Homo sapiens: one gene and its partners. The protein of the gene in region 1 interacts with the protein of each later gene in a pairwise test. Each region holds a gene or a part of one and is shown on either strand. Other genes may lie near its edges.

Region 1 (2,749 bases):
TTTAAAGACTTCTCTAGGAGCTGTGGGAGAATTTTTAAAATTCCGTTTATGTGAGATAATTCAACCTGTGTCCTAGGTTTGGAGATCGTTTCCCTGCCATGTCTGATGCCTACGACCGGACTATGAGGCAGAGGGCTCTCAGTACCTGGAAACAAATGGGGGAGCAACGTGAGCTACAGGAAGGCACCTATGTGATGGTGGCAGGCCCCAGCTTTGAGACTGTGGCAGAATGTCGTGTGCTGCAGAAGCTGGGAGCAGACGCTGTTGGTGAGAAGGGGAATTTGGCTGGAAGCTTGAAGAGGGAGGGGTTTAGCAAAATGGGAAGGGGAAGGAGTAGGAAATAACAGGCCTCATTGGACTGAGAGGATCTGATTTCAGGGAAGGGTGAATTAAACTGACTTATTGAAATACAAACTGGTGAGATTTGGTGTAGCATCAAATCTCCCTACGAAGCACCAAGGGGTTAACAGCTGCAGTGCTAATGAATGATCTATCCATGATTTGATGACTGTTTTTTGAGACGGAATGTCGCTGTGTTGCCCAGGCTGGAGTGCAGTGGCATGATCTCGGCTCACTGCAACCTCCGCCTCCCGGGTTCAAGCAATTCTCATGCCTCAGCCTTCCGAGTAGCTGGGATTACAGACGTGTGCCACCACGCCCGGTTAATTTTTGTATTTTTAGTAGAGACAAGGTTTCACCATGTTGGCCAGGCTGGTCCTTGAACTCGCGACCTCAGGTAATCCGCCCATCTTGGCCTCCTAAAGTGCTGGCATTACAGGCGCGACGCACTGTGCCTGGCCAATGTGATGACTGTTTCTAAGAATTCTAAAAAATTCACTATAGCCACCTTCTGTACCTCTAGCTGGAAGATGGAACTCTATCATTAGGATTGAGTTCAAAATTGCCACAAATATAGAAATGAAGGATTGTATTGGTAATTTTAAGAAATGTGTATTTATTTTAGGCAATACAGAAGATAATTTAGCTGCTTCTTTGGATTTGTTTTAGGTGGGGCCTTGCTCTGTTGCCAAGGTTGGAGTGCAGTGGCACCATCTCTAGCTCACTACAGTTCTGACTGCCTGGGCTCAAACAATCCTCCCACCTCAGCCTCCTGAGTAACGGGGACCACAGGCGTACACTACCACACCTGGCTAATTTTATTTATTTTTTGAGCCGAGGTCTCTTTATGTTGCCCAGGCTGGTCTCAAACTCCCGGGCTCAAGACATCCTCCTGCCTTGGCCTCCCAATGTACTGGGATTACAGGTGTGAACCACTGCACCCGGCCATCTTTGGATGTTTTTTGAGATTTTTAATTCTTGTTGAAAGCGAGGCTAAAGGGCAAGGAAAAGAGTTATTTGAGGATCCTGACAGTTGGTTTCCATCTTTCTCACTATCAGGCATGAGTACAGTACCAGAAGTTATCGTTGCACGGCACTGTGGACTTCGAGTCTTTGGCTTCTCACTCATCACTAACAAGGTCATCATGGATTATGAAAGCCTGGAGAAGGCCAACCATGAAGAAGTCTTAGCAGCTGGCAAACAAGCTGCACAGAAATTGGAACAGTTTGTCTCCATTCTTATGGCCAGCATTCCACTCCCTGACAAAGCCAGTTGACCTGCCTTGGAGTCGTCTGGCATCTCCCACACAAGACCCAAGTAGCTGCTACCTTCTTTGGCCCCTTGCTGGAGTCATGTGCCTCTGTCCTTAGGTTGTAGCAGAAAGGAAAAGATTCCTGTCCTTCACCTTTCCCACTTTCTTCTACCAGACCCTTCTGGTGCCAGATCCTCTTCTCAAAGCTGGGATTACAGGTGTGAGCATAGTGAGACCTTGGCGCTACAAAATAAAGCTGTTCTCATTCCTGTTCTTTCTTACACAAGAGCTGGAGCCCGTGCCCTACCACACATCTGTGGAGATGCCCAGGATTTGACTCGGGCCTTAGAACTTTGCATAGCAGCTGCTACTAGCTCTTTGAGATAATACATTCCGAGGGGCTCAGTTCTGCCTTATCTAAATCACCAGAGACCAAACAAGGACTAATCCAATACCTCTTGGATTTTATTTAATGTCATAATGTTGTCAGAATAAAGAGAAAGATGAAATAATTTCATTTTTTTGTGTAACTTGGTATGGGGCTGGGGCACAGACCAAGATTGACATGAAAGGATGTGAGATCGCATGTCTTGTGTGACTATCTGCTTCTCAGACAAGCAGTTAGGAACTGAGATGAGATAGTATGTGAGGGCAGCAAAGGATGAAGAAGGGCAAAATGATGAAAGGTGAGGTGGAAAGAGGTTATGAGATGGTAAAGAAAAGTTAACTTCTGGCACTTGATTGCCACTTCTGTCAGGCTGGTCCTGCCTCTCTCCCTTGCCTTCTGATTGTTTCATTTCCTGTTTATTTGATCATATCTGAATTAGTTCACTGGTTAGCCTCTTCCTTAGTTCCCACTTCCTTACCAAAGCCCTAATTATATTTCCTCTTGTTTGCCTTTTCTCTCCTACTCTTCTCTAACATCTGCAGCCACACTCTCCATTCACTCCATGCTGACAAGGCAGTGGCAAACACTTTTCTCTGCTGCCAGCCACTCCACTGTTGACTGGATTGCTGCCAGCCCCAGGCAAACCTGTGAAGTTGTTTCATACTCTGCTTCTCTTTGAGTGCCTCCTTCTCTCCTTCCTCTTCCTTTCTGGGCTCCAGTCTTTCTCTTCACTTGTGCTTGTCAGAACCTCCCTGTGATACTGCCTCCA
Region 2 (3,128 bases), on another chromosome or scaffold:
TATGTAGTACAAGTTCAGGCTCTTGCATTTTTTTTTTGGGTAGGTCTCTTTCTTGTCCAGGCTGGTCTAGAACTCCTGGGCTTAAGCGCTCCTCCTGTGTCAGCCTCCCAAAGCGTCGGGCTTAGAGGCGTAAGCCACGCACTCAGCCTCTGGAAAGGATCTTAAGGGCATGTGGTTCACCAACCTCTACTCTTCCAGGGCCAGTCTAGGGTCCCAACATCTCCATCTTCAGCCCCTAGCTCTGGGCCAGGATGTGCACACACACCCCGATAGGCGCTTCTCCCTCAGAGCTTCGCCACTGTTCGACAGGTCCAAACATGAATGTCACCTCCACTCCTGCCGTATTTGGGCTCACCCAGTTCTCCCCTGGAGGTGGCACTCCCTGTCCCTCCTGTGTGGAGACACGCATTGAAAATGACTGTCTCCAACAACCCAGGACTTTAAAGCAAGGCAAACAAACACACACCAGGAACTTGTTCATCAAGTCTCAAAAACACCAGTATTACCAGTCGTATGATTCAAGGATTTATTAAGTCATACATGCAAAACATAATGCTAATTGCATTAGCAAAAGATCAATGTAAAAACACTCCACAATTCTGCAACTGTCAATTTAAAAAATTCTGTTGTAGTGGCTGAAGGGTCCCACGCTGTATTCTCGCCAGTGAGTTAAGTTGTACAGAACATCGTCAGCACTAGCACAGTTTACAGAACCTCACAGACCCAAAGGAACATCAATAGGCAAAGCGACTACAGGAGGCGTGTGTCCGCGTGGGCGAGGTAAAGAGGGTCAGTATTGGTCAAGTGACAGTGTCGGTAATCTGGCAAGACAGTGATGTTAAGAAGGTTCATAGTTTAAGAATTATCTAAAATATTTTAAAAACTATAAAGCTGCAACACATGATTTTTACACCTAGTTACTAGAAAACTAAGGAAAGCACTTATTAGCTCTGAATAAAGTAACATGGAAAGCACTTTTACTAATCGACAAAAAAACCTTCTAATGCATTATCAGAAAGATTTTATAATACAAGGAGGCATATTGCTCAGTCAGAAGGGGTTCTATAAGAAAAGCACTTACTAAGTTAGCGACTAACAGAACAACCAGTTTAAAGATGAATTAAATGCCCAATTTGGGGAGGCATGGCAGGTGTAAGAGAAAGGAAAAGCTTAAGAAAACATTTCCTGATAATACCAACCTTTCTTTCATCATCTACTGCATTTGACAGAAATTAACCTTTTAGAGTTTTTACCCGTGACACTTTCATTCCTTGTACAATGTAGTGTAAATCTCCACTTCGTATTTTGTCAAAATACTGTCTTTGTCCTTTGATCACACACACCCCACCCGGCACACCCACAGCTAAACAGAATTCTTCATTAGAGGAAATAGCAGTTCTGTTCAAAATCTCCGCAAAAGCTGGTCAGAAAACTCGCTATGAAATCACAAAGACTGATCCAAAGAGCTGAGCTGCTACGCTCACTCCATTACAGTACAATGTTATGTCGGGAACACGTGCTGCTAACTCACTGGTGAGTTCAATGGCAACGCTTCATTCGGGAGGCTGTTCTGCTTTACGCATCTGAGAACTACATAGGAGAGCAAGTGTCTGCACCTCCTAACTGCAGAAGCTACCGTCTTCTCAAAGACGAAGGTCTTTGCAAAGTTCAGTGCTCGGTGTTCTCGGCACAACAATGCAGTGTAGTTCAGAAGGTATTTTGGCAACTCTTAATCTGAACAAGAATGGGGGGGGCGCTTTTGAAAAATAAGGCTTTAAGAAGGCTTGTCATTTTAGGGCTAAATTTTAATAGAATGTGAGTCTGAACTCTTACATTTAGAACAAACAAAACCTTAAAATTACTGATTGGTTCAAAAAATGGTTTTATGGAAAAATTAATCTGTAACAAAAAGTTGGCATTGAGTGCGAAGGCTCCACCGTTGTTTTTTTTTTTTGTTTTTTTTTTTTGTTTTTTTTTGAGCAAAGCGTACAAAGGTTCCAAGGGACAGGACCAAGAACGAGGGGCTGAGACATTTACAACAGCAGGCATTTTCTCTTCCTCTTCTTCACGGGAGGCGGGCAGAGGACTGCTCGGATCGCTTCGTCAAACACTGTCTTGAGGCCTCGCTGTGTGAGCGCCGAGCACTCCAGGTATTTTACAGCACCTACAGGAAACACGACCACACGGCAATGTACACTCGACCCCACTCTCTTCTGATCACACCACCAGCGGGAGGCAGCTCCTGGGGCCCGGGCGCCTTCTGCCGGCTCCCAGCCCTGCTTCCACCTTCCAACGCTGACGTTAAGACCCACAGGGCCTTGCCAGCTGGTTCCCCAAGAGTACACCAGGCCCTGAGTGGGAGACACACACCCTCCTTTCCCAGACTGGACTCCAGTCTCTGTCACTACAATAAAAGAGGTACAAGGAGGAGGAAAAACACAGGATTCCATACCAATCTCCTTAGCCATGGCTAGACCCTGCGGATAGGTGATGGGAGTCAGCTTCTTCTCCTTCAGTTTCTCGATCGTGTCTTTATCATCCCTAAGATCAAGTTTAGTTCCCACTAGGATGATGGGAGTGTTGGGACAGTGGTGCCGCACCTCAGGATACCACTAGATGTGAAGAAGGAACAGAGGTTGTGACACGCTCCTTTACAGATGTCCTTCACCTAAATCACACCCAGCCGGCGGCACTCATGCCAGACACCTAACCTCAGGCAAGGCCTCCCCACGGAGGCTTCAGGTGGTTCCCACCTTCAATTCAAGCCTTGAGCCATAAGGAACATCTCAGGTGTTCCATTAGCAAGCTAGGACTCCCGGATCATGGCTGGACAGAACCACGACCGGACAGAACGGGCTCTACAACCGCAGGGGAAGGGGGGAAGGGAAGAGAAACAAAAGGAAGGGAGTTCCTCCCAAAGCAAATAGATCACTTTGTTTTTGGTAAAACAATTTCTTAGGGTCATCTGAGAAAATTCATCATCTGTTCAGAAATGAGAATAAACTACCTAGCCCAAGGTCTCAGGTCTGCCGCTATTATCTCCACTGAAAATGCCCCTACTGAAGGGCCTCACTTGTCATTTTCACTAAGAAGTTTGTGAAAGAGACTGGAGTAGAAAGAAATGGTCG
Region 3 (3,657 bases), on another chromosome or scaffold:
CCCCCAGCACATGCTGGCTGGTCACCTTTGTTCTGTTGCTCTATTAAATCCTATCTGGAGGCGTTGCTCACTGCTCACCTTGCTCAGAGAGTCCAGCTTTAGAGAGCGGCCTCTGGAGTAATGCTTGAGTTTAATGTGGAGGCTGATTATTCTCTACCTGATTAAATCTGTCTGGGGAGCATCTTTACCATGGCCAGAAGCTAACACATTTTTTTTTTCCCCTGGCTGAAAGCTTTGACACAGAACTCAGCCAAAAGAACGATTTTTTTTTAAAATGCCTGAAGTTTTGCTTGCTGCCTCCAAGGACCAAAAAAGGAGGAAAAGAAGGTCCTGAGCCCCAGGAGATCAGATTTGCTGGGAGGTCTGATTTGCTTGAGGGCAATCATGTCGTTGACTGCAGGCTGGTGGAAGGTTCTGCAGATACTCAGTGGATGTCAGAGCCGCAGCGCCACATCCATGGCCTCCCCGATGTTAATGGGAAGAGGTACACACTCCATTCCTGCTCTTCATCACAGGTAGCCCTGTTTGAATCTAAGCAGATGAATTTGAACTGCTTAATGTACTCACTGGCTTTAAGATGAGAGTAGCTACAAGATCCCCTTTCACCTCCTCTGAGAGCTCCCCAGATTGATACCACACTGCTGTGCTGTGGCATGGAGCCTAAGGCAGTACAAAGTGGCGTGACTAAAAATCTCACTCCCTTGCCGAGTTTCTGTGCTTCACCTGTGCGAGCACACGCAGCCATTCCCATCCTCACCCCTTGCCCATGAGCCTCAGGCCAGTGCTCTGGACATTTGATGGAATCACTTCAGACTGAAAATGCCTGGGGAAGGTGATCCTACTGTAGCATCATTCTACCTGCAGAGAGGTGTCTCCCCATCTTTTTGAGAGCAAGCCAGGCACGTGTTTAGAGCATGCCTTCATCCCTCATCAGACCTCCTAACCTCCCAATGTTAAGATGTTAACATTTCTAATGTCATGATTTGAACTTGAAAGAGAGGGGTGCTTACAATAGGGAAGCAGTACTGTGCAGCTCATATTGACCTCAGACCTCCTAAAAAGCTTCCCTTCCCAGATGATCTGCAGCTAACATGTTCTGCTTAATTAGGCTGAGGCTGGATTCCTTTTCCATCCATCCAAGTTAAGGACACTAACCAAGCAAAATGCCCCCTACCAAGAGAGACTTCTCATGGCCAGGATTCCACATTCTTAATTCACAAATAAGGCAAGAGACAACTGTGGGTTCATCTCATGGCTGACTCGAACTGGAACCTTCTGACCTTCACAGGGGGACTATGTTGGAGTTCAGAGTAAAGGAATAGGTTGGAGAAATCGGGTGGCAGGATGATTAGGTGACAGTTATACACTTCAGACCACAGTGAGTCTCTAACTGCAAGCTGTTGAAATGGTCAACATATTTACTTTTCTTTTTTATTTACAGGGAAGGAGATTGGTGGGAAGCCCGCTCCTTGACAACTGGAGAGACAGGTTACATTCCCAGCAATTATGTGGCTCCAGTTGACTCTATCCAGGCAGAAGAGTATGTTTCATTTTGTTTTCACTTAACTACTTGATTTTAAAAGTTGATTGCCGCAATAAAATGCCATCAGCATTGGGCAGGAGGGAGAAGAAATTCACAGCAGTGATTAAGGCTGAGTTTTTCAGGCTTTCTGCCCCGGTTTTTACCCTGTGTAATACTTGCACTATTATTAACTTAATGTTTCTCTTGAAGCCTGCTCACTTATTTTGAAAGAAAACTTTCTATCAATACCCTAAATGAAAAGCCAGTAAAACTTGTCATAGATTAAAAGTAGCCATAAAAATATGAAATGCTAGCTAGAGCATATATTATTGCCAACCCAAGTTTCTAAGCCCGCAGTCCACTCCCTCTGTTGGGAAGAGAGGGGAGAGTAGCAAGTAATTGCCACAGATTAAACTAAGATTTTTCTCCTAAGTGTGATCAGAAATATTAAAAGAGTGCTGAAAAGACACCTTCTATGCCCGGTAAAAGTGACTCACATACAGTGTGTCCCCCCAACTTGGGAAATACTACAGTGATTTGGAACCTCAGTTGGCTTCTTTGGTAGTAAACAGTGACGAGCAGTTATTTGGCCCAACTATTCAACTGGTAGCAGTTTAGGAAGGTGTTCAGTAGGCTGAAGGGATCTAAAAGGGATAACCTTTCTCCCTTCTTCTGACCCATGAGGATTAACAGGCACTCCCAAGGGGAAGAACTGCCAGTGGCTGTTTGCCAGCCCTGAGGGAAGGAGAGATGGAGCCATGATTTCCCAAATGCAGGAACTTGGCCTCCTCCTGACACCTTGGGTCTTGCCTCTCTAAAAAGGAAGTTGAGAAAAGTCAGTCACCAAGCCCAACCTTTGGCTCTGCTATTTAATTTCACCATGGATTTGTTTAAGTAGTGCAAGAGGGATTAGACTCCACACCCTAGCCAAATCCCCAGTTGGATTGTTCTATTCTTTAATTCCTTTGTATTTCCTCTAAGAGGATCTGTTTTGTTTCCCACTCTCAAATACTCAGTGGTTCTTAGTTGTTTCTTTCTCCTAGTGACTGTGTTTCGTCATCAGTGAATCAAGGTATTTGTATTTAATTTGTATTTTAGGGCAGATTTGCAAACATCTTTGTGTTCTTTCAGAATAAAAAGTACCACCAAAATGTAGCATTACCCTGATTTAACTGGGAATTTGTCAGCTATATATTTAAGTTATTTTTATAATGGTCAACTTTTTAAATATTTTGTTTTTAAAGAATATTATTTTTTAAAATAATGCCTTCGGTTTTACATATGCAATTAACTATCATTATCTTAAAATACTATTGTTTTGGTGCAATCCATTGTTCTAACAATTCCTTTTTCACCACTGTTTTACACGGCATTCTAATTGGGTTATTGGTACAAACCCAGAAAGCCATTTCTCACAAATAATTGACGTACTAGTCTTTACGCCACCTAATGCTAGATTAAGAATTGTTGCACATTTTGGTGTTTCTAAAAGTCACTGAGGAGCTAATACGCAATGTCTCTTTTCTTCAGTGAAACTTAATTCACAAAAGAATTTGACAGTGAACTCATGATACCTATATTCAAGCATAATGAATTGAAATTTCATTTTAGAATCTGGATTCTTTCACAGTTAAATATTCTAAAAATGGTTCCCACACACAGATTCCAATTGAATGCTCCAGCATTCTCCCTTGGGTTTTGGGGGCACCTGCTGCTCATTCAGCACCTAGTGCTGAAATAGTAACTAATTGCCAGGCTTGGTTAAGGCTTGAAAGTGCAGGGGGAGGATATAAGGCAAATAACAAAAGTCTTGAGGTGACTTAATGTGATGCCTCCTAAAGTGGCACAGAGTATCATTAGTTTCTTCAGGGATAATATATTGAAATATCTGCAACACCAAGTCATTTTAAGGGCATGCTTTTTGACTGGGCACAGATCTCAAAGGTGTACAGTAACCAGTTCTTACAGTTGTGCCAAAGAAAAGATGTACAGGGTCCACCGTGATGGCTCCCTCCTGTAATCCCAGCACTTGGGAGGCCAGGGCGAGAGGATCACTTGAGCCCAGGAGTTTGAGACCATGCTGGGCAACATAGGGAGACAGTCTCACTCTGTCCCCAGGCTAGAGTGCAGTGGCC

Evidence for each region.
Region 2: the proteins of PNP (region 1) and RAC1 interact in binary tests that used the Homo sapiens proteins (3 or more experiments, as listed by UniProt).
Region 3: the proteins of PNP (region 1) and FYN interact in binary tests that used the Homo sapiens proteins (3 or more experiments, as listed by UniProt).

What each region holds. Positions count from the first base shown.
Region 1 is NC_000014.9:20,474,986-20,477,734, forward strand, and holds the end of PNP (purine nucleoside phosphorylase), read left to right. Parts: intron 1-76; coding exon 77-267; intron 268-1,398; coding exon 1,399-1,616; 3' UTR 1,617-2,104; downstream 2,105-2,749. UniProt on the Homo sapiens protein: Catalyzes the phosphorolytic breakdown of the N-glycosidic bond in the beta-(deoxy)ribonucleoside molecules, with the formation of the corresponding free purine bases and pentose-1-phosphate.
Region 2 is NC_000007.14:6,401,352-6,404,479, reverse strand, and holds the end of RAC1 (ras-related C3 botulinum toxin substrate 1), read right to left. Parts: intron 2,613-3,128; coding exon 2,453-2,612; intron 2,165-2,452; coding exon 2,034-2,164; 3' UTR 513-2,033; downstream 1-512. UniProt on the Homo sapiens protein: Plasma membrane-associated small GTPase which cycles between active GTP-bound and inactive GDP-bound states.
Region 3 is NC_000006.12:111,705,805-111,709,461, reverse strand, and holds part of FYN (tyrosine-protein kinase Fyn), read left to right. Parts: intron 1-405; exon of another isoform or gene 406-456; coding exon of another isoform or gene 457-515; intron 516-1,441; coding exon 1,442-1,540; intron 1,541-3,657. UniProt on the Homo sapiens protein: Non-receptor tyrosine-protein kinase that plays a role in many biological processes including regulation of cell growth and survival, cell adhesion, integrin-mediated signaling, cytoskeletal remodeling, cell motility, immune response and axon guidance.